Linked DNA regions of Homo sapiens. The protein of the gene in region 2 interacts with the protein of the main gene of each other region in a pairwise test. Each region holds a gene or a part of one and is shown on either strand. Other genes may lie near its edges.

Region 1 (7,025 bases), on a different chromosome or scaffold from region 2:
TTTAGTAGAGACGGGGTTTCACCATGTTGGCCAGGCTGGTCTCAAACTCCTGACCTCAGGTGTCCTACCTGCCTTGGCCTCCTAAAATGCTGGGATTACAGGAGTGAGCCACCATGCCCGGCCAAAAAAATAAGTTTTTAAAGAATTAAAGGTCATCCTGGCTAACACAGTGAAACCCCGTCTCTACTAAAAAACACAAAAAAATTAGCCGGGCGTGGTGGCGGGCGCCTGTAGTCCCAGCTGCGCGGGAGGCTGAGGCAGGAGAATGGCGTGAACCCGGGAGGCGGAGCTTGCAGTGAGCCGAGATCGCGCCACTGCACTCCAGCCTGGGCGACAGAGCGAGACTCCGTCTCAAAAAAAAAAAAAAAAAAAAAAAAAAAAAGAATTAAAGGTGTTAATTTTATTTAGAAGCCTTACTGAAGACTACAGTCGGAGGCCTATAGCCTGAGAGCAGCCCTTTAGAGAGGTTCAGTTGAACTGTTCTGATAGTGGGGGCCATGTGCTCTATCCTGTATTGTCTTCAAAGCATCTTTCCAGAGAGCTGCACATTGTCACAGAGTCAGGGACTTTGTGAAATTATGCTGACAACCAGAAGTGAGTAAACGTGGCTTCTTACATTTGCTACGTTGTCTCACAGTACTTAATAAGTATGCAATATGTAAGTAAATACTATAGTACTATTGCAACTCCTGATTGTTTTCTTAGACAAGGAATTGGGCCCAATAAAAACCCTCTTGGTAGGCATTCAGGCTTCGTGTACCATGAGCTTTCCTAAGGGTATCCTGCCACTCTTGGGGAAGGCATGATAGATGAGGGGAGTAAGGATAATGGAACTCTGGGTACAGGGTTCCTGGGGGCTAACTTAGAGGTAGACACAGGCAATGCTAAATATTTGGGATTGATTTTATAGAGGTTGCTAGATTGTGAATTTCCTTAGTAAGGGCTAAGGCATTGATATGTAATGTCACACTTGGCTCCGAGGCTGGGTTGTTGGATCCATGTAGATGAAATCAGGGAGAGAAAGGGCAGAACGGAGTAATTTAGAAATGTATTGATTTGTATTACTCTCTGTTGGCTTGCTATTCAAGGCAGTGGAGAACTCAATCACATAATAATCTGCAGCAAACCACAGATCATCCCAGGGAATGAAGTTTTAACATTCGCTGGCTCCCTAACTCCTCACCCAGCCTTTACATTCACTGGCTGTTCAGTCCATGCCTGGACATCTTAATTTGAATACAACATTTTAAATCCATTTTTCTGTCATCATCTTGCACTAACAGACAATTCTACACTAAGCCTATGTTTATGAATATTTCTCAAGAGTACATGTACACAGCCTTCAGTATAAGGAAAACTGGAAGTATGACATACCTCCAGTTGTCATACTCCTTGGGCCCCTCTTAAATTCTCATTAAACTGCAGGATAGGCAAGTCAGAGGTGAATCTCAAATACGAAATTCTTACCGGAAAGGGGTTCCAATCCAGACCCCAAGAGAGGGTTCTTAGATTTCTCGCAAGAAATAATTCGGGGCAAGGCCACAGTGCAAAGCAAAAGCAAGTTTATTAGGAAAGTAAAGGAGTAGAGAACAGCTACTCCATGGAGAAGAATGGCTTGAGCTGCTCCACCAAGGGTATTTAGAGTTACTTCTTGATTATATGCTAAACAAGGGGTGGATTATTCATGAGTTTTCCGGGAAAAGGGTGAGCAATTCCCAGAACTGAGATTTCCTCCCCTTTTTAGGCCATATAGGGTAACTTCCTGCCATTGCCATGGTATTTGTAAACTGTCATAGTGCTGGTGGAAGTGTCTCTTAGCTTGCTAATGTATTATAGTTAGCTTATAATGAGCAGTGAGGACAACCAGAGGTCACTTTCATCACCATCTTGGTTTTGGTGGGTTTTGGCCGGCTTCTTTACTGCACCCTATTTTATCAACAAGGTCTTTATGACCTGAATCTTGTGCCAACCTCCTATCTCATCCTGTGACAAAGAATGCCTTAACTTCCTGGGAATGCAGCCCAGTAGGTGTCAGCCTTATTTTACCCAGACCCTATTCAAGATGGAGTTGCTCTGATTTAAACGCCTCTGACAAAATGACGACCTCAAAACAATCCAGCTTTATGGAATACCTCCACAAGAAAGAAAGTATACTTAGCTATAGAATTTTCTCCTTGCATCCAACAGGCTTTGAGATGTCAGATGTTTCCTTCCTGTCCCATGATTAATCCTAGCCATTCCTCTTTCTTGTCTGGCTCCACTACTCCTTACCATCTAATGCCTCGCCACCATTTTGATATTTTGACTAAGTGAGCTATGAAACACACCTACTGGATATGAAAGTATAAGTTTCTGATAACAAAACATCAACATGGGATGTGGAGGAAGTGGGTAGGGTGGCATTAATGCAGCAAATCCTGGAATATTTTAAATCTTCATTCTAAATTTAGTAAAAATATAGGATAATTTTCCTGCCATCATTTACTTATAAAATTAAAATTTTAGAAAATAAAAATAATATTTTCCTCTTTTTAATCACAGATTATGGCCTGTATTGGAGACAGATGAAGTCGTAAGAAGTCTGATAGATGGAATACTTACCAATAAGAAAATGATTTTTGTTCCATCGTATATCAATATCTTTCTGAGACTACAGAAGTAAGTACAGCACAGAACACCCAAATACTAAAACACCAATAGAGCTTTTTTTTTTGCTTTTTTTTTTTTTAGACAGAGTCTCACTCTGTCACCCTGGCTGGATTGCGGTGGTTGCAGTGGCATGATCTTGGCTCACTGCAACCTCCGCCTCCTGGGTTCAAGCAATTCTCATGCCTCAGACCCCCAAGTAACTGGGATTATAGGTGTGTGCTGCCACACTACACCCAGCTAATTTTTGTATTTTTTGATAGAGACAGGTTTCCCCATGTTGGCCAGGCTGGACTCGAACTCCTGACCTCAAGTTATCCTCCTGTCTCGGCCTCCCAAAGTGCTGGGATTACAGTCATGAGCCACCATGCCTGGCCCAATAGAGCTATTATTATGGAGCATCTTTCAGTTGTGAAAATTGGCATGGAAACTCTCCATCCCTGGGGAGAACAGTTATTTCCTCTGTTATTTTCCTACCCAGTCTATAAAAAGAGAGTGATTCATTTTCTCTACCAAATCTACTGTCTCTGCCCAAACTTTGCTGAAGACTATTCTAACTAAAGGAAACACAGTTTAAAAAGAATGCAATATAGTGAAGTAGTTAATAATAAAGACTCCATTTTTAAAAGTCTGCTGGAAGTTTGGTTGGGATTGCACTGAATCTATAGAGCAATTGGGGAGTATTGACATATCAACAATATTGAGTTTTCTAATCCAAGAACATAATATCTATTTTTAAAATCTTCTTCAAAATCTTTAAATCTTTAAATTGTATTTTGTAGTTTTTGGTGTTTAAGTCTTGCACATATTTTGTCAGATTTATTCCAAAGTATTTCACGGGTTCTTTTTTTTTTTTTTTTTTTTTTTTTTGAGACAGAGTTTCACCCTTGTTGCCCAGGCTGGAGTGCAGTGGCGTGATCTTGGCTCACTGCAGCTTCTGCCTCCTGGCTTCAAGTGATTCTCCTGCCTCAGCCTCCCAAGTAGCTGGGATTACAGGCACCTGCCCCCTCGCCCAACTAACTTTTTGTGTTTGTAGTAGAGACAGGGTTTCACCATGTTGGCCAGGCTGGTCTCGAACTCCTGACCTCATGTGATCCACCTGCCTCAGCCTCCCAAAGTGCTGGGATTACAGGCATGAGCCATCATGCCCAGCCCTATTTGACGGTTTTTGACGCTAATGCAAGTGGCATTTTAAAAAATTTTATATTTCCCATTGTTTGTTGTCAGTATATATTGGATTTTTGTAATTTGATCTCATATTTTGCAGTCTTGCTAAATTGCTAAACCTCTTTTTGCTAAACTCGATAAGCTTTTTTTTTTTTGGTAGATTCCTGGGCCTCTAATTTTCTTTATGGGAAAGTTTTTAATTACAAATTTAATTTCTTTAATAGCTACATGGCTATTCAATTTACTTATTAATTCTTGGTAATGTGTGTCTTTCAAGGAATTTGTCCATTTCATCTAAGTTGTAGAATTTCTTTGGCATAAATTTGTACATAACATTCCCTTATTATCCTTTTAATGTCTTTAGAATGTCTTATTTATTTATTTATTTATTTTTATTATATTTTTTTGAGACAGAGTCTCGCTCTGTTGCCCAGGCTGGAGTGCAGTGGCACAATCTTGGCTCACTGCAAGCTCCGCCTTCTGGGTTCATGCCATTCTCCTGCCTCAGCCTCCCTAGTTGCTGGGACTACAGGCGCCTGCAACCATGCCCAGCTTATTTTTTTTTTTTTTTTTTTTTTTTTTTTTTTTTTTTTTTTTTTTTTAGTAGAGACGGGGTTTCACCCTGTTAGCCAGGATGGTCTCGATCTCCTGACCTGGTGATCCGCCCGCCTCAGCCTCCCAAAGTGCTGGGATTACAGGCGTGAGCCACCAAGCCCAGCCTATTTATTTATTTAGTAGAGACAGTCTCACTTTGCTGCCCAGGCAACAAAGGTTTTGAATGCCTGGCCTCAAGCAGTCCTCCTGCCTTGGCCTCCCAAAGTGCTGGGATTACAGGCATGAGCCACTGCACCTGGCCAAATGAATATGCTGATAATATCTTCTTTATAAGGATGACATAAGAATAAAATAATGTAATACAAACAAAGCCCCTGTCACTGAAAATGTATAGACTTCAAATGTTAAAGTCTTAGAGAACAGAATTTATATGAAATAGCAACAGCAACAATTTCCCAGAGGAAATACTCTCTCAGCTTTCTTCTGAGGAGCAGTTTCTAAATTGAAATTGTATCAGTGAGAAGATAACTATACTAACTTCATAAGCCTTGGGCCTTTTTGAAACAAATCCATATAAACTATGAACAAACTTGAAATAGAACAATTTGAGAACAGGGTACAAACTGCATTGGTGTATCAATTTCAGTATTTGGTTTTAGCTTAAATAGACTGACTTGAGATAACATAAGGAGAACCTTGACCCCCAAGCAACATCATCTCGCGAGTTGACTAGGCCGGGTGTGGTGTCTCACGCCTGTAATTCCAGCACTTTGGGAGGCCACAGCAGGCAGATCACTTGAGGTCAGGCATTCGAGACCAGCCTGGCCAACATGGTGAAACCTCAGCTCTACTAAAGATACGAAAATTAGCAGGCATAGTGGCCTGCACCTGTAATACCAGGCACTCGCAGGAGAATCCCTTGAACCCGGAAGGCGGAGATTGCAGTAAACCATGATTGTGCCACTGCACTCCAGCCTGGGCAACAGGAGACTCTGTCTCGGAAAAATAAATTTTTTAAAAAAATGAAAAAAAATAAAAGTTGACTAAATTAGTGTCTTGGTACTAAGCACTGTAGGAAGTGAGTTTCATGGAACCCCAACTCTCTTGGGGCCCAAAGCAAGTCATATTAATATTGAAAATTACATGCATATACATGCATATGACCAAGGTGATAAAAACAATTATTCTGCCTGAGTTGGAGAATAGTATCCCAGTAAAATAAACAAGAGTCTCAAAGTCTTTTGTATCCTTTGAAGCTGTCATGGTGGTTTGTAACTAGGCAACAGGTATATATTGTTAATCTTCTTTGCATTTAATTCCTTTTATAGAGAGACACAATTTTACGAGCAGATGCAATTACTAGCATGAAGGTTTCTTTGTGAGGGTAGTTAAAAGGCCCACATGAGCTCTCTTCTTATCCTTGTCCTTCTTTCAGCCAGATCTTCCCTGCCCCTTTGCTCATTCCATCTTTCACCCACCTACCCCCAAAACAAGGAAGTAAATCTTGCATTAGTCAACAATACCAAAGTGATTTTCAATATGACTTTCTCTGCAGAATGTTATTATTTCTGCCTCTTTACATTCACATACTGTCTTCCTTTTTTTTTTTTTTTTTTTTTTTTTTTTTAGATTGGGTCTCACTCTGTTGCCCAGGCTGGAGTGCAGTGGCTTGATCTCAGCTCACTGTAACCTCCACCTCCTGAGTTCAAGCAATTCTCCTGCCTCAGCCTCCTGAGTAGCTGGGATTACAGGCATGTGCCACCACACCTGGCTAGTTTTTTTGTATTTTTAGTAGAGACAGGGTTTCACCATGTTGGTCAAGCTGGTCTCGAACTCCTGACCTCATGATCTGACCACCTGTGCCTCTCAAAGTGCTGGGATTACAGGCGTGAGCCACCGGGCCAGCCACTCTCTTCCTTTCAGTTGCCTACTCATCTCTTATGCATTCCTGGACATCAGTTGTCCTTTTGAAGCTTTCCTCCACTATCCCAGCCCATGTGAATCCTCCTTCCAGTTATAGCCCTTAATTCTAGATGGCTGATATTTTTCAATAATTGTTTTAAGATGACCATTTTAGCCTATCAGCTAAACAATATCAAAGACAATAGCTATTTTTCAAGTACTTTAGTTTACCTTATTATAGAGTGCATAATAGATATTCAGTAAATAGTAAAGGAGAGGTGAAGGCTTGCATAGAATGGATTCTGGTGGTGTCTCTTGGTGAGCTTTTAGCATCAAGATTAATCAGCAGTTTCAGCAATGAGCTCAGACCTTCAGTTTTAGATCTTTACTCATATCAGATAAGAGAGTGAGAAGAGTGGTATGTATCAGTGCTTTATTTATATTTGCATCCAATTTGAACTATGAATATTACAAAGGTGCACACATAGGTTCAGACAGATTGATTTAAAATGACCAAAGATGACCTGTCGTAAGCAACCTGGGTATCTTAAGATGCACTCCTTGGAGAGGGAATGTTCCTAAAAACATTTTCAGAGGGACGAACTGTATGAAATTCAGTAAAACATAAATCATGAGGAAAACTGATTACTCTCTTTTTGACATGAAATGAGAGTTTTAATGCATGGTTACGATTATTAACGTACTCCGCTGCAAGACGTTAATAAAGTTACTGTTTTGCAGGCTAGAATGTCTTG
Region 2 (7,682 bases):
ACATACTGCAAAAACAAACAAACAAATCCAGATGCAGACCTTATTGCCTTCACAAAAATTAACTGAAAATGGATCACAGACCTAAATGTAAAATGCAATACTATAAATCTGGAAGATAACACAGGAAAAAAAACTAGACGGCTGAGGGTATGTGTAGGAATTACATGAGATATCTCTGTACCTTCCTCTCAATTTTCCTGTGAACCTAAAACCAATCTAAGAAATGAAGTGTTTAATATTGAATTTAAAAAAAAAATGGGCAGAGATCCAGCTCTAAAACAGCACCCTGAGAAGCTTCTCACCCACTCCCCAGTGGTGGGCAGGGAGGGGAACCTGGTAGAAATATTTTTTAGAAAAACCCATTTAAAGTTTTAAAAACCATTAGGAAAATTGTCCTAAGGACATACATCAAATAAAGACATATTTATTCAGAAAATTTACTAAATTCCTGTAAGAAAAGTGAGGGTCTCTGGTACTTAGCCATGGCCCACTCCTTCCCTTCCCCCATGTTCAGCAGAAGGGAAACTCCACTGTGGGAGGATATGGCCAAGAACACTGGGATCACAGTCACTCCAGCTCCCAGTCAAGGGCTATGGTATCTCCCCTAGGAGGAGAAGGCTGCCAGCGTTTCTCATCTCCCTACCGCTGTGAAGCAGAAACAACATTTGAGGCTAATGAGGCCAAGAGGTCAGGGACTCCCTTCCTCCACTCAACCATAAGGCAAAGGTTCAGTGGGCTGGGAATACTGGATTCCTGGTCACCTTTTCTCCAGCTACTTCATAGTGTGGAGTTTCCATGCCAGGAGAGTCAAGCTGAAGTTGAAAAGACCAGAGGCTACTACGCCACTCAGGACCATGCTCAAAAAGTAGATGGGTCACTCTAGAAGATGCAAGCCACTGTCACCAACCCCAGGTCCAGAGCAGTGGCTCAGATATGTTGCCCAGAGGAGAGGCATGCCTTAAGAACAGAGAGCTCTGAAGCTGTCCTCAAGTAAACTGACTTGTTTGGAACAGAGTGTGGGGAAGTTCAAGGTTAAGAGTACTGCCAAAAACAATGGAGATTTTGACAGTAAGCAATTAAGAGGAAATGAGTAGCTTGATAAAAGCAACAAGCTCAACCATAGGCCAGCTAGGTTGCCAGAGAACCAGTGAAAGAGACAGTAAGAAATAACCCTCTTGGAGTAAAAACAAAAAAAAGAAAAAGGGAAGATAAAGAATAAGAAAGAGGCCAGGCACAGTGGCTCATGCCTGTAATCCCAGCATTCTGGGAGGCCAAGGCAGGTGAATCCCTTGAGCCCAGGAGTGTTAGACCAGCCTGGGCAACATGGCAAAACCCTATCTGTACCAAAAAATTAATAATAATAATAATATAAAAATTAGCCAGGCATAGTGGCACGCACCTGTAGTCCTAGCTACTTAGGAGGCTGAGGTGGGAGGATCACCTGAGCACAAGAGGTCAAGGCTGCAATAAGCTGTGATCGTGCCACTGCACTCCAGCCTAGGTGACAGAGAGACCCTGTCTCAAAAGAGTAAAAAAAAAAAAAAAAAAAAAAAAAAAAAAAGAAGAGGAACAAAGAAATATTTTAGACCTCCAGTTAAAAATGGCAAACTGGATACACATTCAATTTTGCTCCCTCTCAAAACCACCAAAATAATTTATTTTTTAAGGCATAAAGCTGAAAGGATGACAAGAGGAGACCATTTTGGAAGCCAGGAAGCAGAACAAATTTAAACTTCTCAACAAAACAAGAAAGCCAGACATAATGGGACAAAGCCTTCAAAATTATAAATGAAAATTATTTTTAACCTAAAATTTTATATTCAGTCTAAATTTGATCACATTTGAATAGATCAAGTTAGAATGAAGATATTTTCAGTTTTGTAAGTTCTCAAAAAATTCTCTTCAGTGTACCCATTTCTCAGGAAGTTACTGGAGATTTACTCTCCCAGAACTGAATAAATGGAGAAAGAGAAATGCCTTTGATGCAGGAAGCAGGAGATCCAACCTAGGACAGAAGTAAAGGGAATCCCCAGCATGGTGGTGATGTGAGAAGCCAGGACAACAGCTGTGTGTGGTGTCAAGCCCCAGACTGGGGCAGGTTGGAAGGGTCTGAAAAGCCTTTCTCAGGAAGATATAGAATACTTGATGCATAGAAATTTATTCATAGAAGATTTGATAAAGATTTGAGGGTTGGATTAGTGTTAAGCAATAGAAAACCAAGCAAGCAAACAAACTTTTTAAAAAAAGCAATTATCTTCAGAGAAGATCAAAAGTTATGCAGGATAGGAAAAGTAATCTTAATTTTCTACATGGCTCAGCTGCTGTAAATGGTATTTACAGGCACACCTCGGAGATATGTTGCAGGTTCTGTTCCTGACCACTGCAATAAAGCAAGTATTACAGTAAAGCAAATCACACGAATTTCTGGTTTCCCAGTGCATATAAAAGTCATGTTTATACTATAAGGTAGCCTATTTAGTGTGTGATACTGTTATGTCTAAAAAAACCTAACGGACATACCTTAATTTAGAAATACTTTGTTGCTAAATAATGCTAACAATCATCTGAACCTTTGCCTTCACAACATAAGGCCTAACATTTGGCTTATCTTTGCTTTCACAATGCCTTCCTCACTAAGCTTAATCATTTCTAGTTTCCAATTTTAAATGAAAGACATGTGACACTTCCTTTCACTTAAACACTTACAGGCCATTGTAGGGACATTAATTGGCCTAATTTCAGTATTATTGTGTCTCAGGAATAGGGAGACCTAACGTGAGAGAGAAATGGAGGAACGTCCAGTTGGTGGAGTGGTCAGAACACACGGTCAGAACACCAACACAGAGTTGGTGGAGCGGTCAGAACTGAATTATCAATTAAGTTCACCGTCATATGGGTGCGGTTCATGGCACCCCAAAACAATCACAATAGTAACATCAAAGATCACCATAACCAACATAATAATAATGAAAAAGCTTGAAATGTTGCAAAAGTTACCAAAATGTGACACAGAGACATGAAGTGAGCAAAGGCTATTGAAAAAATGGTGCCAATAGACTTGCTCGATGCAAAAATGCCACAAATCCTCAATTTGTAAAAGATGCAGGATCCACAAAGAGAGATGCACAATAAAATAAAGTATACCTGTGCATATTCCAATATTGTAAACACTGAATATTGATTTAAACAAAACTATAACCAATTTGGATAGAGGAGGAAGAGAGGAAGCATACTTCTGGAACATGCAGTGGGGAAGAAGAAAGCTAAATCTTCACCTTTTATGGTTGGGAGTCAGTAGATTATGCCTGAAACTGAAAAATCAAGAAGTACCAATCCAAGCATGTTATTTAGAGAACTGAGGTAAATGCCTAAAGAATGAGCACAGGTGAAAGTGCTTGCCTCTGAAGAGGAAGAAAGGGAGAGTGTGGGACTGCCGATTTTCGTAAGTTTTGAAAAACTGACTCTTTGAAAACTAGGTACATGATAACCTTGAATAAATTTCATAAATATAAATATGTTTCTATCTCTTCTATATCACTTCACTCACCAGTATTGAGTTTTCAGAGTAACTACTGTATATTAGTATCTAAAAGTTAATTTTCTGTCTTAAAGGCATTAATATGGATGCTAGACTAAATATACAGAAATTCCACTTTTCATAATAATAGCTACCATTACTATGGTCCCAGTATTGTACTAAGCACTTATATTATCTCCAGTCCCCAGAGCAACCATGCAAAGTAGGTACTGTTTCCATTTTACAGATAAGAAATTGATGCTCAAAGAGATTAAATAATTTGCTAGTATGTAGCAGAACTCTCTGATCTCAAAGCCTCTGTTCTTCCTTCCTCCTGGATCCCATCACCTCTTTCTAGAGTTTGCGTTTAAAAGAACTAGGGGCAGGGGGAGGGCAATGTAGCAGTTCAAATAACTCCTCCTTTGGAGGAAGGGCAAGGAAGCAGAAGAGAACCGCTGAAGGATTCAGCAATAGCACTAGGTAGCAGTCTCATGTAACCAAGTTTAACCCACAGTTGAAATTTCCAGTTGGTCATGTGAGCAACGGAAGCAATTTTTAAACTCTGGCCAGGAGCCCCAATGCTTACAAAAATAAAAGCTTTGTTCGGCTCTTATTTTGAAATAAAATAGATGTTCCAGCTGCTCCAACATGGGCCTAAACACTGCAGTGAGAATGCTCAGGACACAAAGTTTTGTGTCCAGAGAAGCCCAGTCATCATTACAAAATTGATCTCTAAAAGGGGTTGGGGGACAGACGGCATAGCTGCTTCCCAAGGAAATGAGTAGGAGGTGACCTGGGTCCTGACTGCCACACTGGCTGGGAGCTTGGACCAGATGATCCTGATGGGTTTCTTCTGAATAAAATTCCGGGTTGTGTTTATCTTGCAGTTTAAATCACTGGGAGCTTCGAGAGTTCTTTGGCTCCTTCCCTTTCTGGAATTATTGTGTGATATAATCAAGACATTTACCTGGCTCTTTAAATCAGTTGGTTTGCCGGCTACAGTGTAGGTAAAGAGTATGTCATAATGGACAATAAAAAGTTGTTTACATACCTCATTTCTGAAAAGTCATGGGCCACTGGCAAGTTAGGAAACGAAAGTGAAATCAGCTGATAGTGACATCAGTCAGAACAAATGTACCAAAGTTCAGAGAGCTGTTTACTAGGCACGACTGCGAAGGCAAGGGGGCACCAGCTCAGGACTGCATCTGCCTGCCATTTCCCTTCCACTCCTCCTTTCTGGAGTCTGACATTAGAAAGCCAGCGAGAAGGAAGATTCAAACAACCAACCCTGATTTCCTGCTTCTCCTTTTCATGAGTGTTCCTGTGGTCTCTGCACCTCCTTTCTGTAAGTACCGATCCTGCAAGCATCACAGCTTACCCAGACGTCTACTACCTTGTAAGACAATTTTGTTTTCTTCTCAGATATTTCATGTTCTGGCAATCCACATAGGGGAACTCACTGGTTGTTCAGTATCTGTGACCCTCCCTCGCTCATGTCTGTATAATCTACATAATCTACCCCCTTTACTCTCTGCTCTCCTTCCTTCCACTCTTCGGCATCAACATGTGTAGCTCTGGCCTCAAAGATGATGAAAGTAAGGCCAGTATAACTGGTTAGAAACGATGCAGGGCTGACTGCACACAGCAGAGTCTTGCACGCAGTGTGTACAAGGACATGGCTGTGGCTTGTGCAATACACTGTTCATCAGAAATAGGTAAACAAAAGCAGGTCACCGACCAACACTAACTAAACCACTATTCAATGGTAGTTACGAACACATCATAAAACTTTAAAATACACACTGAAGATTAATATCAACAGAAAAACTTGTGTTCTTGCCTCAAAGAATGGGACCTAAGAGATGTTTAGATCTTATGTTAGTCATTAGACCAGATTGCTCCTCATGCCCCAGTGGAAATCCATGGTGGTATTTTAGTTCTCTTGATGCATATTTTAAGAGATTTTTTTTAATGTGGGCTTAGTTTCACTAATAACTTCCACTATGCTTCTTCGCCTATAAAATCAAAGGCTCCTTTGAAAGAGGGAAAAGACACATATTTCCTTCTTCCCTCATGATAACTGAAGAGCATTTTTCAGTATCCACTTACCATACCCCATTCCCCAAAATCTCAGGTCTGAGACTCAGTCCATGAGATATTTTTTCAATCTTGCACATATTCCCCTTTCTCAACTTTCTTTCCAGCTTAGTCCCTGCTTTATCTAATTACTAAGGCTGTTTTGAATGCCTGTTTTATAAATTTCTTTTTTTTTCATAAATGTAGCACATAATTCTAAAAATATTTTACTGCAAATAGAGAACAATTGCCTGTAATGTCACCACCCAGAGCTACCACAGCTAACATTAACATTTTCAAATACTTCTTTAGTCTCTTTCTCCTATGCCTCTTTATATGGATGTAGTCACACTATGTAGAGTGATTTTATACCTGCTTTTTCTAAAAGATGCATAGTATTTTATCCTTGATACATCATAGTTTACTTCTGATATTGGACTTTCAAGCTGCTTCCCATTTTGTGCCAAAAGTAATGCTGTGCTGAACATTCCTATGTATAAATTATTGACTGGATTTCTGATTGCTGTCTTAGGATAGATTTATAAAAGTGGGCCAAAGAGATATGACTATTTTTAGGGTTTTTAATGTTTATTGCCAATCTGCCTCCCTGAAAGTTTGTACAAATGTTCACATCCACCATCATTGTGTGAGAATGCCAGTTTAACCATATTTTTGGTATCATCAAGTGTTTTTACCTACAGTGTTGATAGGGAAACTCTGGTTTTTTACTTGGCGTATCTTTAATTACATTAGAAAAGTTACAGAATTTTTTTTCATGTTAGTTAACTACTTTGCATTCTTTGTGAATTATCTCTTCATATTTGTCCATTTTTAATGAGGTGTAATGTTTTTTGACAGTTTGCGTAAACATTTTAAACATTAAGTACATTAATCATTTCATAGTTGTGGTAGATATTTTCCATGCTCATTGACTTTTAATTATATTTATGTTGTTTTTGGTGAATAGAAATCTTTATTTTAGAATAGTTAAACCTGTGCAATTCTTTATTTGTAGTTTCCATTTGCTCTTAAGTTCCAAATTTTATTTTTCACTCATAAATCAAATATATCCTTTTTTCCAGATCATTGATTTTTTTATCTGGTTTTACCTTTCACTCTTGGATCCATGTGAAATTTATTTGGGTATGTGGAGTGAGATGAGGACCTAAAATAGTTTTGTTTCTCTTTTCTAGTTAGCTGATCAATTGCTTCAGTATTAGTTAATGAAGAACCCTTTCAGGACTCAAAACAAATATCTCTTCTGAAGAGAGGCTTTCCCTGACCCTATAATCTAGTCATCACTTCCTCCTGCCAGTTTCTCTCTCTCACTCACCCTGTTTATTTCTTTCCCAAACCTTTTCAAAAATTATAATTACCTTTTAAAAAATACATTTGGTGTTTGCCTTCCCAACTAGAGTACAAGCTCAATGAGAGCAGGCACCTGGTTTGTCCTGTGTGGCACTGATTCCCCAGGGCCTCTGATTCAGGGAGTCATCCAAAATGTGTCACTAACAGAGTTACAAGATGAAATGCTGACCCCACGAGTCGAAGTGGGTGGCAAATTGCCTTTGTAATTGCGGAAGAGAGGGCTGGTGCGGGAAAACTAACCATTGACAGCCAAAGGCAGTCACCAGTTTCTGGTACTACTGATTCTCAAACTCTGAATCTTGTGAATCTTGGCCGCCCACAAACTGGACCGTGGAGTCCTGCCAACAGAAACCAAATGAGATTAGCTGGACGTGGTGGCAGGAGGCTGAGGCAGGTGAATTTCTTGAACCCGGGAGGCAGAGATTGCAGTGAGCCAAGATGGTGCCACTGCATTCCACCCTGGGTGACAGAGCAAGACTGTCTCAAACAAACAAACAAATTAAGATGGCTCATTTGTAGACATTTTCTCATTTTTAAGGATTTTCTTCTCCCTCTAAACTTTTTGTAATCTTTGTTCCCACTTGGATTATCTGCTAGTGAGAGCTAATAGTCAACAAAACAATTGCACAAATAGCAAGTTAATATTAATGGAACCATTTAAACAGCTATCTCAATGGCTTGTCATCTGGGTGCCTGGACTCATGCTTCTGACTTTATGTTA
Region 3 (7,352 bases), on a different chromosome or scaffold from region 2:
AATTGCTTTTCCATGCCTTCTTAAAAAAACTGATTTTGAATTCCATCTGTATCACTTTATCAACATCTTTTTTTTCCCTCAAAGATGACTAGGAATCAGTGACTGTCTTTTACTAGGTAAAATTTATACCATCAAATGGCACCAAAAATCTATTTAATCATGAATAAATATGCCAGTTTTGTAGACTTGGTCTTCCATAAGTTAATTTATGACCACTGATGGAATAACTCAGATTAATTATTGAAGAAGTTACAAAGTTCTCTCCAATCTGATTGGCTATAACAACTGAAATAAACAATCAGTCTCCCAAAGGGTTTTATTTGTTGACATGGCTCTTAATTACAGTGATACATTCTTTGCAATTACTTGCATTATTTCATTACAAAGTGAATGCATCGCCTTTAAGAAAAACTAGTCTTGCCCTAGGCCTGGTGCTATTTACCTACCTAGGACTAATTCTCAGTAAAGACAAAGAGGCAGAGTTTAGGCTTTTAAAATTCCACTGCTTCTTTCACAAGCAGCCTTCTGGAAGTCATCACTGAAGCTGTGTTCCTCCAGGCTTTTTTTGTTTATTGTCTCTCAACTTAAGTAAAGTACTGAAGTTAGACAAGGTTCTACATTTTGGTATCCATCTCTGGGATAGGGAAAATGATTCAGAAAATCAGATAGCCGGGGTTTGAAACAGGGCTGAAAATTTTAGAAACTGTGATTTTGCCATGTGAGCCGCAGTATCCTTATTGTGAAATGGTGAATAATGACTTTTTCCTTGTAGAGCTGTTACAGAATGCAATTAGATAATGTTTGTAAAGCACTTAAACTGTCTTTTGGCACAGGGAAAGCATTCAATAACCTCTATTTAATAAATTCCAGCAATACCTTTCCTAGTAGCGTCAAATTTGTTAGGTTTACATTAAAAAAACACAGACTATGCAAAATTTTATTTGTATGTCTAATTTTTGAGAGGAAGTGGTGGTTTTCATTAGATCTTGAAAGATTTCTGTCTAAACAGTAGTTAAGTGTAGAACCAAGGAAAAAAACTGGAAGTTAAAAACTCATCTATGACCACTTGTCTGTAAATAAACATTAAGTACAAAGATCATGTTGATTCTCAAAGAACTCCAAGCAGATTTGCCACTGCAGTTTCCCACCAGGAGGTCAGGGTATTGAGGAATGCATGCTAATACCCACCTTTTTATCTAGGAAAAGACAACTAACTATCGAAGAGGCAGTTACCACCCATTTTTTCCCTATTCAAGTTTTAGAATCAGTCAAATCTAGATTTAAATACAAACTAAGTGACTTTAAGTAATTTAACTTCTTTGACTATCAGTTTCATCAAGTATAATATGGGGATAAGAATACCTACCACATCATCTGTTGTGAAGATTCAATAAAATAATATATACATAAAATACGTGGCACTGGGGGGGTCGCGGTGGCTCATGCCTGTAATCCCAGCACTTTGGGAGGCCGAGGCGTGTGGATCACTTGAGGTCAGGAGTTTGAGACCAGCCTGACCAACATGGTGAAACCCTGTATCTACAAAAAATACAAAATCAGCTGGGCATGGTGGTGCACGCCTGTAATCCCAGCTACTTGGGAGGATGAGGCAGGAGAATCACTTGAACTCGGGAGGCGGAGGTTGCAGTGAGCGGAGATCACACTCCAGCCTGGGCAAGAAAAGCGAAACTCCGTCTCAAAAAAAAAAAAAAAAGTGATACGGAGCCTGACCTATTTAGTTTCAATTTTTGTTGTTGTGGTTGCCATTATTCTCATCAACTCCTCCCTGTTACACTCTCCATTTGGGAAGATAACCTGCAACGTTATTAGTAGACAAAAAGTGAGGAATAAAGATTTCTGTAATTCCTTTGATGCTCCTGGGAAGGAACTGAACACAGGGATCCCTGGACAAGGGAAATGGAACTTATAGCTAAGATGCTGTGGATAAAGCTGGCTTTACAAATAATCAGAATAGATGACTCCAATGTCATGTTCTTTGAGGGGTCCTGGAAAGGACCACCCAGCCCTCTAAATTGCTTTCACTGCCATCCTGCCTGAAATTCCATCTTTAGAAACACTGTAATTCCTCTGGATCACTAAGAGCTCCTGAGTGGGTACCAGGACTCCTGAGAGGTCCACCATCTCTCTTTATTGGAACCCCCTCCCCAGAGTACCAGTTCCTCCACAGGGGAACGAGACTGAGCCACTTACAGCTCCTGCCTTGAAGACTGGGAAGGGAGGGTGGGGGTGAGGGTGGGAGAACTCAGGGTTCCTGGCGAGGAACAAAAGCCGGGAAGGAGAGTTCTCCAAAACGCAGAGGAAAGCGGAGGGGGAAAAATGGGGCAGAAAGTGGAGCTAGAAAGAGAGGTAAGAAGAAAGCCAGAGAGACTTCTTCCTTCTGCAAATCGGTCTAAGTTTCGGGAGGTGGGATTGGGGGAGGAGGGGGTTCACCCTGGGGCCAGGCCAGGGCTGGGTGGAGGAGGCGGCCTTCGAGAGAGTGAGTCGGGAAAGAAGGGGAGTGGGCAAAGGGTGAGATGTGGGGTCCCGGTCCCCGCCTCGCTGGCTGCCAGTTCCCTCTGCGTTTCCTAGTCCGCGTGCGTGACACGAGATAGTGCAGCCCTGGCATGGGGCTTGGCATCTGGCGGCCGCGAGATAACCAGGGCCCGTGCGATGGGAAACGTGCCGTTGGCAGCCCGCCACCCCTCCATCGTGACCTCAGTCTGCCAAACAGGGTTCGTGATGCTCAGTTTACTAGGGAGGAGCCGCGGCTTTGAGATCTCGCCCAGCCCGAAGCAGCGGAGACTGGCCAGGAGCCCGGCTGTCAGACCTCGGAGCGCACGCTGCGGGCGGGGGCTCGGTCCACGGGGGAGGGTCAGGGGACGCGGGACTCACCCTTGAAGGAGTCGGGGAGCCGCTGGGCTTCGGAGTCCCGTGTGTGCCGCTTCTCGGCCATGCTGCCCGAGACGCAGTCGCACTCCCCCGTCCTCGTTGCCAAACCCGGAGCCGCCGGGAATGCCCTGAGGAGCCAGAGGCACAAGACCCAGATTGCCGCCCCGCCCCCAATCGAGGTCCCGCCCTCGTGAGAGTTGGCCAATCAACGCCCAGGATCGAGGAGGACCCACCTCCCAATCCCCGCCCTCCTGTCCCTCCACGGCGCGACTGCTTCGCAGTCACTTCCCGCTAGTTCTGTGGGCTGAGGGGCGTGGCCTGAGGGGCGTGGCCTGAGGGGCGAGAGCCCCCAAGGCTGTGGGTATGAGGCCGGGGCCCTGCACCGGAAGGGAGGGCGGAAGCCACGGGACGTGGAGCAGATGGTGAGGATAGTGGGGAGGTAGCAGCAGAGGATGACCCGAGGCAAAAGTGCAAGTGAAGAAAAGTCGCCTTGCCGGGCAGAGGTACGGGACCAAGGCGCCTCCTCTGGGCTGAGGAGTTAGAGGGAAGAAAATGGCGCCCTGTCATGAGGGCGCGAGGTCCGAGTTGAGGGGAGAAGACTGAGGGACACAGAAGTGGCCGAAGTGAGGGCGCTGAGGTCAGCCTGAGCTGAGAGGGCCGGCAGATCACGCCGCAGCCGAAGTGAACGAACTCGAGTGAGGTGTGTTAAGAAAATCAAAATGTATAAATTTGGAAAAGGAGAGGAGGCCGGGCGCGGTGGCTCACGCCTGTAATCCCAGCACGTTGGAAGGCCGAGGCGGGTAGATCATCTGAGGTTAGAAGTTCGAGACCAGCTTGGCCAACATGGTGAAACCCCGTCTCTGCTAAAAATACAAAAATTAGCCGGGCGTGTGGCGCGCGCCTGTAATCCCAGCTACTTGGGAGGCTGAGGCAGGAGAATCGCTTGAACTTGGGAGGCAGAGGTTGCAGTGAGCCGAGATGGCCTGGGTGACAGAGCGAGACTCCGTCTCAAAAAAACAAAACAAAAAACAAAAAAACAGGAGAGGAGACTTTATTTCTTGTAAGGGGTTACAGCCTGCAAGGTGGCCATTCCGCAGGCTGGAGAATGGCCAGGACCAGAGACAGGCATTTCGTTGGAGGAGGGGTTGGAGTAGCGGCTTTATGCTGAACAGCTTGGGTAGACATGCATATTCAGCAGGTGACAGGAGGAGCTATGAATATTCATGAGGGTGGTCCTGACGCATGCCCATTGAGCAAACATGCATGTAACATACAACCCATGTTCATTTTGGAGTGAAGAGTTACCAATTAAATGTTAAATGCCTGGCCTGCATGGTGACGTCCCCATCTCTACAAAAAGTAAAAAAAAAATAGCCAGGTGGGGTGGTGTGTGCTTGCGGTCCCAACTAGTCAGGAGGCTGGGGCAGGAGGATCACTTGAGCCCAAGAGTTGGAGGCTGCAGTGATGTATGATCAGATCACTGCACTCCAGCCTGATGGACTCTAAAAAATAATAACAATACATGTATTACAGTTAGACCCCATGCGTCAAAAGGTCTTTTCAGGACAGGAAGGTGTGCAAGTATGCAGTCTGTGTAAACTAGCCAGAGCCAGTCCATGGTCGGTAGTTTTCCTATGAGGAGAAAGTTACTGAAATCAGCCTCTTGTCCAATTAAAGCTGTAATGATGGCTGGTGGAATAGGGGTTCCATTAGGCCACATCTGGTGGAGCTGCAAATTGTTTTAATATTGCTTATCTCGAGGCCAGTGCTTGTTAAGCTGCTAGAGAAAGAGAACAACCTTGTGGCAGTTAGAACACAGTTTATTCTCTAAGTGAAGGGATGTGTGCCTTAACCTTTGCCTGGCATGACCTTAGGTATAATTTGTTTATAATTTGGTATCTTATTGTCACAAACAGTCTGTTCTGTCAGTCTTATGATCTGTGTTTTAACGTTAATGCTGGTCAGCTGTTGTGTCTAAACTCCAATACGATGAAGTTATAATGAGGCGAGTCTGACCTTCTGTCCTGTCATTGGCTGGGAACTCAGTTTTAAAGTTTTCTGGAGTCCCCTTGGCCACAAGGGAGTCCATTCAGTCGGTGGGGTCATTTATTCAAACAAAATCTTCTTGGAGCATCTTCCATGTGGCAGGGAGTGTGCTAAGGGCCTCGTGGAGTTTACCTTATACTCTAGTTGGGAGATGGGCCACAAACAAGTAATTGAATCATTACACATGGTGAAGGAAGCTGTGAAAGGAGTGGAATATTCGGAGAACAGCAAAGGTTAGGACAGGGGAACACCTCTGTAAGGAAGGGGCTTTGAGATGTCGCCTGAGAAATGAGAAGGAGCCAGCCTGGGGAAGGGGAATAAGCGGTGCAGGAGGTGGGAAAGGGTATCCCAGGTAGAGGGAAAAGCATGTGCAAGGGCATTCCCAACCTCAGGCCTTCTCTTGGGGTGTGGCTGAAGACCTCATATTTGGAAAGTAGGCTGTGTTTGCATTAGACTTGTTCTATTGCACAATGTTCAAAGTATGTTAATGTACACAAGGTGCACTTATAAAAACATTCGATTTTGAAATAAGTACAGATTCACAGGAATTTGCAACAACAGTACAGAGAGGTCACATGTCCCCTTTACCCAGTTTCCCCCAATAGTTACGTCTTACTTAACTAGAGTATCAAAACCAGGAAATTGACAGTGGCACAAAATGTATTTATAGTTCTGTGCCATTTTAACATGTGTAGATTGATATAACCACAGTAATTGATACAGAACTATTCCATTACCACAAAGATCTCCCTCAGGAGGAGCACTTCTTTCTTAATGTGCTCAATATTTGGCTGTGTACTACCCAACACCTTGTGGTGCTTAGGTCATATGAAATGGTAGACTTTCTCTCTGATTTTACAGCTCTGGAGCTTTGTGACTATCAGGACGGAAACGGGAGCAGACACAACAGGTGTTAAGAGAGGCATTAAGATGATCTTTGCTTGCAGGAACAGGCTCCAGTGTGTGATCAAAACCTGACTCAGAGCTTGCAGTTGACTTTTAGTCAAATACTGGCCAAGAACTGTTTGTATTCCTGGGATGGAGTGCAGCTTGTGCAGTCACTTTGTTAGCCTTCTGGAGAAGATAAGGAGGGGAGTACAGTAATTTAATGATCCCTTCTCTCTAAATCATCCTTGAGAAAGTCCATAGCTTCATTTTTCCATTCTGTAACGAATAAGCCCTGGAGACATAAACTTCCCGTTTATCCTGTCATTCCCAGGAAAGAGGAGCAAATACACAAGAAACTAATTAAACCCTTCGGTAGAGGAGGCCTTGATTACAAATTGCATATTGTGAAAAAGGATTTAGGTTTCATTTTTGTTGGAAAGGAAAATGGTATTTCAAAATGAATTTAATATGTGTACCCCTATCAGTTACCTAAGCCCAAGTCTCAAGACAATCTTAACAGTGTAGTGTCCCTTCTGGAGAATTAGAAGTGTCTCCCTTTGGGGTAAAGACTTTGGTAAACACTTCTTGGCTCTGGTTTCAGATTGCATCAGTTCTAAAACTAATTCCTGGCCCTAAACTAAGAACAAGCTTTGACTTGATTTTTAAACTGCTTTTAGAATAGAGTTTCCAATTTTTTATTTAAATATGCTTACTCTCACTTGCCCATGAAATTGGTGTATTCTGGCTTTCTCGTGCATATTCTGTTATAAATGTATTGATTAAATGTACTTTAAAAATCAATTTCTCACTCTTAAGATTAGAAAAAAACAAATATTAGTACATCCCTTTCTCCTTTTGGAGGATTTTTAATCTTAAATTTTCTCCCAGTAATGATTAGAAGTTAGAATGATTTTTTTTAAAGAACCTTATGGCCAGGCGCAGTGGCTCATGCCTGTATCCCAGAACTTTGGGAGGCTGAGGTAGGCAGATCACTTGAGGTCAGGAGTTTGAGACCAGCCTGGGCAACATGGTAAAACCCCGCCTCTACTGAAAATACAAAAAATTAGCCGGGCATGGTGGCGCATGCTTGTAATCCCAGCTACTTGGGAGGCTGAGGCAGGAGAATTGCTTGAACCCGGGAGGCGGAGGTTGCAGTGAGCGGAGATCATGCCACTGCACTCCAGCTTAGGCAACAGAGTGAGATTCCATCTCAAAAAATAAAATAAAATAAATAAATAAATAACATTATGCTTTTTAAATGGAGACATATAAAATTGTGAGTACTTTGAAGAGAGAATTTCTTATCACCTCTAACAAAACTGCTATTACAATTTTGGTGAATTTTTCCTCTAGTTGTTATTTGAAGGATACTTATATATAGTTTGAAAATCAGAGTAGATGTTCCATATTTCCTTTATTTTTTATTTTTATTTTTTATTTTTTAGATGGAATGTTGCTCTGTCACCCAGGCTGGAGTGCAATGGCATGATCTCGACTCACTGCAACCTCTGCCTCCTGGGTTCAAGCAA
Region 4 (7,227 bases), on a different chromosome or scaffold from region 2:
GAAATCCAAGAGTTTGAAGTCTACAAGTCATGTCAAAGGCAAAGTCAACAACTGGAAGAATTTCACCCTTGCTCTCAAGGGTACTTTCAGAAACTTCACTGATTTGCATTTGGTAATCAAAGCAGCAGACAATTAGGAAAAGCATCAACCTAATATTTTCTCTACTTGTCTAAAGGCACTTGACAAGCTTTGTTTCTTAAGAGAATGAGAATGTCAGAAACCCAAAGAAAAATGCTCATAGGGTCTAAAAGGAACCTGGCAGATGCTGACTTACAACTGAACCAAAATCTTTTAATTGCTTTTTAATTGCATAAATTTCTGCAACATGAGTAAATTCTAACAGGATTCCTGCATACTCAAGAAAATTATAATAGTAAATAAAATTAGCTGTGTTCTAAACTTATTACTGATATCCTCTGGTAGTGTGCAAATTAGTCTTCACTCCTGAAAGAACAATTAAGAAAATTATTGAACAGTTAAGAAAATATACCTAACTTTTAGTGGACAACAGCATATAGTGATTGAATAAGCAGATGAATAAAATAAGCCCTAAGTAGTAAATGTGCTCTTGAAAATTAATTGATTTTTTTTTGCCAATTTCTCAGCCAGAGGCAAATTTAAATGTTCACTGTTTGGACCATAATATGAGGGAGAGCTAGAGGTCAGTCAATAATAAATATTTATTGAGCAGTTACTATGTGTCCAGAAAGACTTTTGGGGGATAGAGGTATATGTCAGTTAAGCTTAAAATCAAGTTGTAAAGAGAAACTTAGCTAGCAAATGCCAGACAAGTTTAAGTATTGCTGACTTAGAGCAATTAGGGAAGTTAGGGAAGTTGCTAAAGAAGGGAGAAATGGATAATTTTGCAGGAGTGTCCAATCTTTTGGCTTCCCTGGGCCATATTGGAAGAAGAATTGTCTTGGGTCACACATAATGTACAATAACACTAACGATAGCTGATAAGCTAAAAATCACAAAAAAATCTCATAATTTTAAGAAAGTTTACGAATTTGTGTTGGGCAGCATTCAAAGCTCTCCTGGGTTGCATGCAGCTCGCGGGCCACGTGTTGGACAAGCTTGATTTAAAGGTAGAGCAATATAGTAAAGAGAAAAGTGAGAATAAGAAAATTTTTGTAGACAGCTATAGAAACAGACTTCAAAGTGAATTCCAAAAGTTCACATTTCCTATGTGGGTTCTGAGAAATAGTTGCAAAACCATGAAGGGTAGAGAGAGATGAGAGAGAAAATGCAAGAGAGAGAAATACCATGTTTTGAACACTATTCCTACTTCTTTTCATTTGACAAGTATTTATTGAGTACCTACTCTTGGGATCTCGGAACAATTTGAGACCCTGGGTGTGTGGTGATATTAAACAATGTGCTCTCATGCAGCTTCCACTTAGTGCAGAAAAACTAGTTGAAGGACAAAGACATACACTGCTTAAGGAAACAATGTAGAAAGGGAATACAAAGAAAAATATATATCTGTAATATTCTTATAGCACACATTCTTTACCATTTAAAATGATTACTATTTGTTCTTAGGCCTACTATTGTCAAACATTTACTTATTAATTTCTTCAAATTTGATCTTTATTATGTGCCCTGATTTTGAATCAATCAAGTTAAATTACTGACTAATAAAAATATGACATTCTGTTATGAAAGCAAGTTGAAACGATTTAAAATTGCGTATTTGGAAGAATACATCTCAATGAAAAAAAAGAGTCTGAAATATGTATTATACCAAAAGAACAGAATTTTCAGAGAATTCAGATATGGATTTTTTTGTTGCAAATCTTCTCATAAATTCTCCACAGTACTTCAGCTCTTCTCATTCCAATTTTCTTATTATTTTTCTGTTACTATGATAAACATCACAGTCACCTCTGACTTTTCCCTTTTCCAATATTGACTCTGTATAACATTCCTTTTGTATGTATTTGTATAGTGCCCACTGATGTTACCTATTAGCCCAAGACCTCATTCCTTCTCTAATTAATGTAACAGTTTCCAGCACCCTCTTCTGCCAGTTACAGAATTTTGGAGCCCAGAGGGACTATACTCAAGAAATGCAACCCTTAAAGCCATTATATTCTCTGCTTCTGGATCAATCCTCTTAAAACAGGCTCTTATTGTGTAGTTTTCTGATCAAAATCTTTCCATGGCTTACCACTACATACTGAGGACTCCTCAGCTTCTTTTGTTGAGCATTTAAGGCTGTCTATGCATTTTTTAAGGCCCCAATATGCTTTTTCAACTTTGTATTTTTCATTCATTGATTCAAAAATATTTTTTGAGCCCATTTATAATTTAAATGGTGCTAGGGCCTTGCTACAAAGATGAACAAGTCACAGCCTTGCCCTCTAGCAGTCCCCAGTTTAAGGGAGGGGGTACAGGAGTGGTGGGAATGGGTGTGACGAGTACATGAAAATCTCATTAAGTATTGAGAGTAGGTGGTAACAGCGCCTGCCCAGGGAGCACTGAACTCAAGTGTCCAATCCTGCTGTGTAGCCAACTTGGCTTCATCAATGCTGACGTGGGCTGTCTTTTCTCTGCTTTTCTGTATACCCTAAATATATCTAGGCTTACAAAGCCTAGATCAGATGCCAAATAATCCATGGATTTTTCCTTAGTCTCCTACTCTTAAATATCTCTCATTTGAATTCCCATGACATTTTAAAATTTCCTTTCCTATTCTAATCACATCCCTGCTTGTATTAGAGAATATCTCTCTTACTACAACTGTCTGCCTCTTAAAAGCAACAACTATGACATATATTTATATATCTCTAGACACATAAACCTAAAAAAAGCTTACAAAGGTGTTCAGTAAATGTTCCCCAGGCTAAAATAATGAATAATAATGTGTACAAAGTCAAAGGTAAAATAGAACAATGGCGGGAATTGACTATACAAACTGATTCTTCATAGACTTGTAAAACTATTATACTACATAAATTACTGCAAAAATTAATGACAGTAGAAAGGAGGACTACCACTAACAAACTAGGATCCTGGGCTTACAGGGGTTAAGGAGATCTAACCACAAGGAGAAAAAAAAAGTTCTTAATTTGCCTTCATTAAAGACTAATTTTAGGTCTTTGGCTAATTAAATGAATACATTGTTTATGCTCCATACACTTTCGGCTCGAGTCTTGGAAAATACGTGGAACTTCCAAGAATTAAAGTTTCCATTAACGCAAGTGCCAAAATCAGGAGGCTTGACCTGTGGGAAAAAGCACATTTGTCTTCGCTGGCTCCTTTTCAAAAAGCTATAGATGTTTATTGTATAACCTTTTTTGTGCGCAAATGCTGTTTTATCATTCAGACCCATCTAGACAGAGGAAGAAGCTGCAACATTTCAGAAAGCAACCAATTACTGAGGACCGAATGACCTGGCCTTATCAGCGCTGAAGTGTTAACGGCCGTCCCTGTTTGGGGTAAAATTTCTTCATTGGGAGCCAGTCAGTGGTTTCTTTTTTTCTTTCTTTTCCTTAAGGGGCCGGGGGTGGTGGGGGGCAGTCGCTGTTTTGAGGTGTGTGTGTGTTTAATTCCCTGAGAACTGGCTTTGGCTGGTGAAGAAATACTTTACTATAGTGGGTTTCAGAACATCTTCCACCTGTATCTCTCCTAGCAGGTGGAAATTTAATGTAAATAATTGTGTGTGCCCACAGCTTGAACGCTTTGGAAGAATATTTTCTGACCTCTCTGCTTTTATTCAGTCCGAAGTAGCCCAGTTATCATGAAGTAGCCCAGTTATCTACCTAGATTACAAAATAAAATTAAAATTAAATCTCCTTACGTCAGTGAACTTGGAGTCAGAAAGTTCTCTCCCCTGAGCAGAGAGCCTTTTAAAGACTTGTGTGTCACGCTGGCGGCAGGGGGTCGCGGCTACTGGAAAGGAGCTGGCTCTGCAGGTCCCGCCCTCCCCCGGGTCGTCCCTCCCTCTGGCCTGCTCCCTACCTCCCGGGGACTTGCGCTCGCCCCCTCCCCGCCCGCCCCCTACTCCGCGACAACGTCGGCTTCCGAGGTCTGGCGTGCGTCAAAGCCCTAACTGGGAGGCTGATTTGTGGAGCATCGCCCCCCCGCCCCCGCCCCCCCAGTCCCTCCTCCTTCCACTGAAGTGGCCAAGGGAGTTGAGCTGAGCAGGGGGAGGGGAAGATCTACACCCATCCCCCTTCCTCTAGCCCTCCCTGCGTTTAGATTCAGTTGCACCTTTTATTATTTTAACTCTTCTCCTTAGGACACGCAGCCCCCAATTTGTCCCTCCGGCCTGGGCGGCCCCTGGTCCCGCGCGCCAGCATGGGAGAGCGAGGGACCTGCCCGCGGCCCGCCGGCGTGTGCAAGGAGGTCCAGCCGCCGCGCCCGCTACCCGGAGTCTGTAAGTTTCAAAGCTGCTCCGGGGGAGCGGAGGGGGGAGGCTGTCCGTGTTCCCGTAAATGATTTAAAATGCAAAACACCGCAGAGGCTTGCAGTGATGGATGGACTTTTCGGGGCACACTCCCTACTGCAACCCGCAGGCTGTTGTCTTGGGTTTTTTCCCCCCCGCACCTTGTATATTTGATTCCTTCGTTGTAAAAAAAAAAAAAAAAAAAAGTTTTCAATTTATAATATTATGATTTCCACAGGAACCTTTTTAACTCTTTTTAGATGCAACTCATACTTCTTTCGCATTTAAAATAATTCTTATAACTTATAAATTCTATAGCACACCACTTATTATAATTTTGTCAGATTACACGTTATTTAGACTGCGCAAGGAGTCATGGCCTTTGCTTACTTCTAAAAATAACGGAGGAAGAATTTTCTCTCTTTACTTTTAATATTGCTACATCATCTAAGTACTTTAATAAGTAGATCGTGCACCCAACTGGTCTTAATCTTCATGACTGACGCCACGTGCTGTAGCCTTGCACTAATTTACAGACGCGGTTAATCGCAGAGAATTATCTTTGAGCCTGCTGTTTACCGGAAGGCTCCTGGTTTTGTTTAACTAAGGCTATGTCCATATGTACTCAGAATAAGAAAAATTGAAACAGTTCTTTTTATTAAAACCAAGTAATTTTTCTGAGATCCCAGAACTCAAGCACAAGCTAGATTCATGTTTGGGTTAGTAAAAATCACATTTTTGGTTTTGCATGTCACCTCGCACATGTACAGACATATCCTTGAATACAAGGACCCAAGAGGTGAGGATAGGGTGGGTTTTTAAGTTTTTAATAAATGTTTCCCTCGTGCAGGAGGACGGGTGTCCAGGGACGGAGAGGCAGGTGAGAGGGAGGTGGCTAAGCTGGCTATGGTGACAGGACGATGTTGGCCAGAAAGAGTATCATCCCGGAGGAGTATGTGCTGGCGCGCATCGCCGCAGAGAACCTGCGCAAGCCGCGCATCCGAGACCGCCTCCCCAAAGCCCGCTTCATCGCCAAGAGCGGGGCCTGCAACCTGGCGCATAAGAACATCCGTGAGCAAGGACGCTTTCTACAGGACATCTTCACCACCTTGGTGGACCTGAAATGGCGCCACACGCTGGTCATCTTTACCATGTCCTTCCTCTGCAGCTGGCTGCTCTTCGCTATCATGTGGTGGCTGGTGGCCTTTGCCCATGGGGACATCTATGCTTACATGGAGAAAAGTGGAATGGAGAAAAGTGGTTTGGAGTCCACTGTGTGTGTGACTAATGTCAGGTAAGAATGTAGTGGGATGAGGCAGGGGTTGAAAACAGTAGAGAAAAAATGTCAAAATGCCCTTTCTCTTATCATTCTGTTATTTAATTGAAAGTGAAATAAAGGGTTTGTTTTAGAATCTTCAGAAACAAAAAAGCACAATAAAGAACAACACCTAACACAGTAAGTATTTTTTAAATGCAGCTTTATGGAGAAGAGTCTCTGAAAACCTGAGCTTCAGTCCTTTGGACTAGCCTTGAAAATGTTATACCAGTTATCAAAAAAAAATTGTAATTCAAAGGATTACACAGAGTGCTTTACTCCAAAAGCGCACACATTGAGTTCAGTATGAAAAAGCTGTTGTCCATAGTTTCAGTGCCCACAGGTAAATATCTCTGATCAACAAAAAATATTGTGCTAGTGGACATTTTTCTTGACTCTTCTAACCCATGACATTTTCAGAAATAATAAGAAAAAAATGGGAAGGCCCTAGGGGGAGAGTGTCCTAGATTAAAAATCTACTAAAAAATGAAATAAATATCATCCCTTCTTTATCGAGATTATCATAACATAGCTGATTGCTTGCACTGGATTCAGAAATTAAAAGTTATGCTAAGATTCAGAACTAGAAATTGCTAATTTTTAATGACAATTAGTCCAAAATTTTATGGAAGGGGTTATATAGAAGCAATTTAATTTTGTACTCTTCTTTCAAAGTTTAAATAGAATAGGGACAAGATAGTTCTTAGATTACCTAACTTTGGCTTCTTTCTCATATCATAAGTATCTCAAAGACAGGTAAATTGATTTCAGTGATTCACCTCTCTTGCTTTCACATGGTTTAAGAACATTTAGTTGAGGTGATTTCTTTGTTTTTTTCGGGGGGAGGTGGAAAGAGATAAATTATATCAATTACCAAGATGTTCACTGTGAAGCAAAAGAGTAGTAATAATACTGGAAAATTTTCCAAAACATTTTTAAAAGAACATTTTAAATTCACATAATTCACAAAGCAAAGAAACTTGAAAAAGCATTATGATACCAGGAAACTGTAAAGAATGGGACCTCTAGTGACCCTGAAACCTTATTAAGCTAGCATATCACTGCAGAAAGTGGACCCCAGACTGTGAACTTGTCCACCCTTCCATTTGCTAAGGAACTACAATGCCAGCCTTTCAAGGAGGAAGGCAGCATTAGTGCGCAGAGATCACACACCACAGATTTCAGCTCAAATTCTGAGCAGCAAAAACTGTATTGAATTGATCTATTGCTTTTAATATTGATTAGATATTATTTTCTTTTTTCAAACTTCTCACAAACTGTTGTCTCAAAGAAAATGCAGCTGGAAAACATAGATCATCAGTATACCAGATATAAAGAAAACACAATACTTAAAATATCCGTTAAAACGTTCAATAGATACTCTAAGATCAAATATCATTATCTATAATATATATCTTTAAGAAACTTACTGGCACTGATAATTGGTGAATCATTTTCATATCAAAATAAAGTTTTAATCTAAATTATATGATACTGATAAAAAGAGAAAAAAGAAATG

What was found.
Region 1: the proteins of TMEM140 (region 2) and HSD17B13 interact in binary tests that used the Homo sapiens proteins (3 or more experiments, as listed by UniProt).
Region 3: the proteins of TMEM140 (region 2) and STOM interact in binary tests that used the Homo sapiens proteins (3 or more experiments, as listed by UniProt).
Region 4: the proteins of TMEM140 (region 2) and KCNJ8 interact in binary tests that used the Homo sapiens proteins (3 or more experiments, as listed by UniProt).

Annotation. Positions count from the first base shown.
Region 1 is NC_000004.12:87,305,876-87,312,900, reverse strand, and holds part of HSD17B13 (17-beta-hydroxysteroid dehydrogenase 13 isoform A precursor), read left to right. Parts: intron 1-2,541; coding exon 2,542-2,658; intron 2,659-7,025. UniProt on the Homo sapiens protein: Plays a pivotal role in hepatic lipid metabolism. In vitro, it catalyzes the oxidation of a variety of lipid substrates, including 17beta-estradiol, retinol, retinal, and leukotriene B4.
Region 2 is NC_000007.14:135,143,409-135,151,090, forward strand, and holds the start of TMEM140 (transmembrane protein 140), read left to right. Parts: upstream 1-4,663; 5' UTR 4,664-4,862; intron 4,863-7,682.
Region 3 is NC_000009.12:121,367,235-121,374,586, forward strand, and holds the start of STOM (stomatin), read right to left. Parts: upstream 3,017-7,352; 5' UTR 2,954-3,016; coding exon 2,893-2,953; intron 2,733-2,892; exon of another isoform or gene 2,659-2,732; intron 1-2,658. UniProt on the Homo sapiens protein: Regulates ion channel activity and transmembrane ion transport. Regulates ASIC2 and ASIC3 channel activity.
Region 4 is NC_000012.12:21,771,703-21,778,929, reverse strand, and holds the start of KCNJ8 (ATP-sensitive inward rectifier potassium channel 8), read left to right. Parts: upstream 1-4,223; 5' UTR 4,224-4,384; intron 4,385-5,243; 5' UTR 5,244-5,313; coding exon 5,314-5,687; intron 5,688-7,227. UniProt on the Homo sapiens protein: Inward rectifier potassium channels are characterized by a greater tendency to allow potassium to flow into the cell rather than out of it.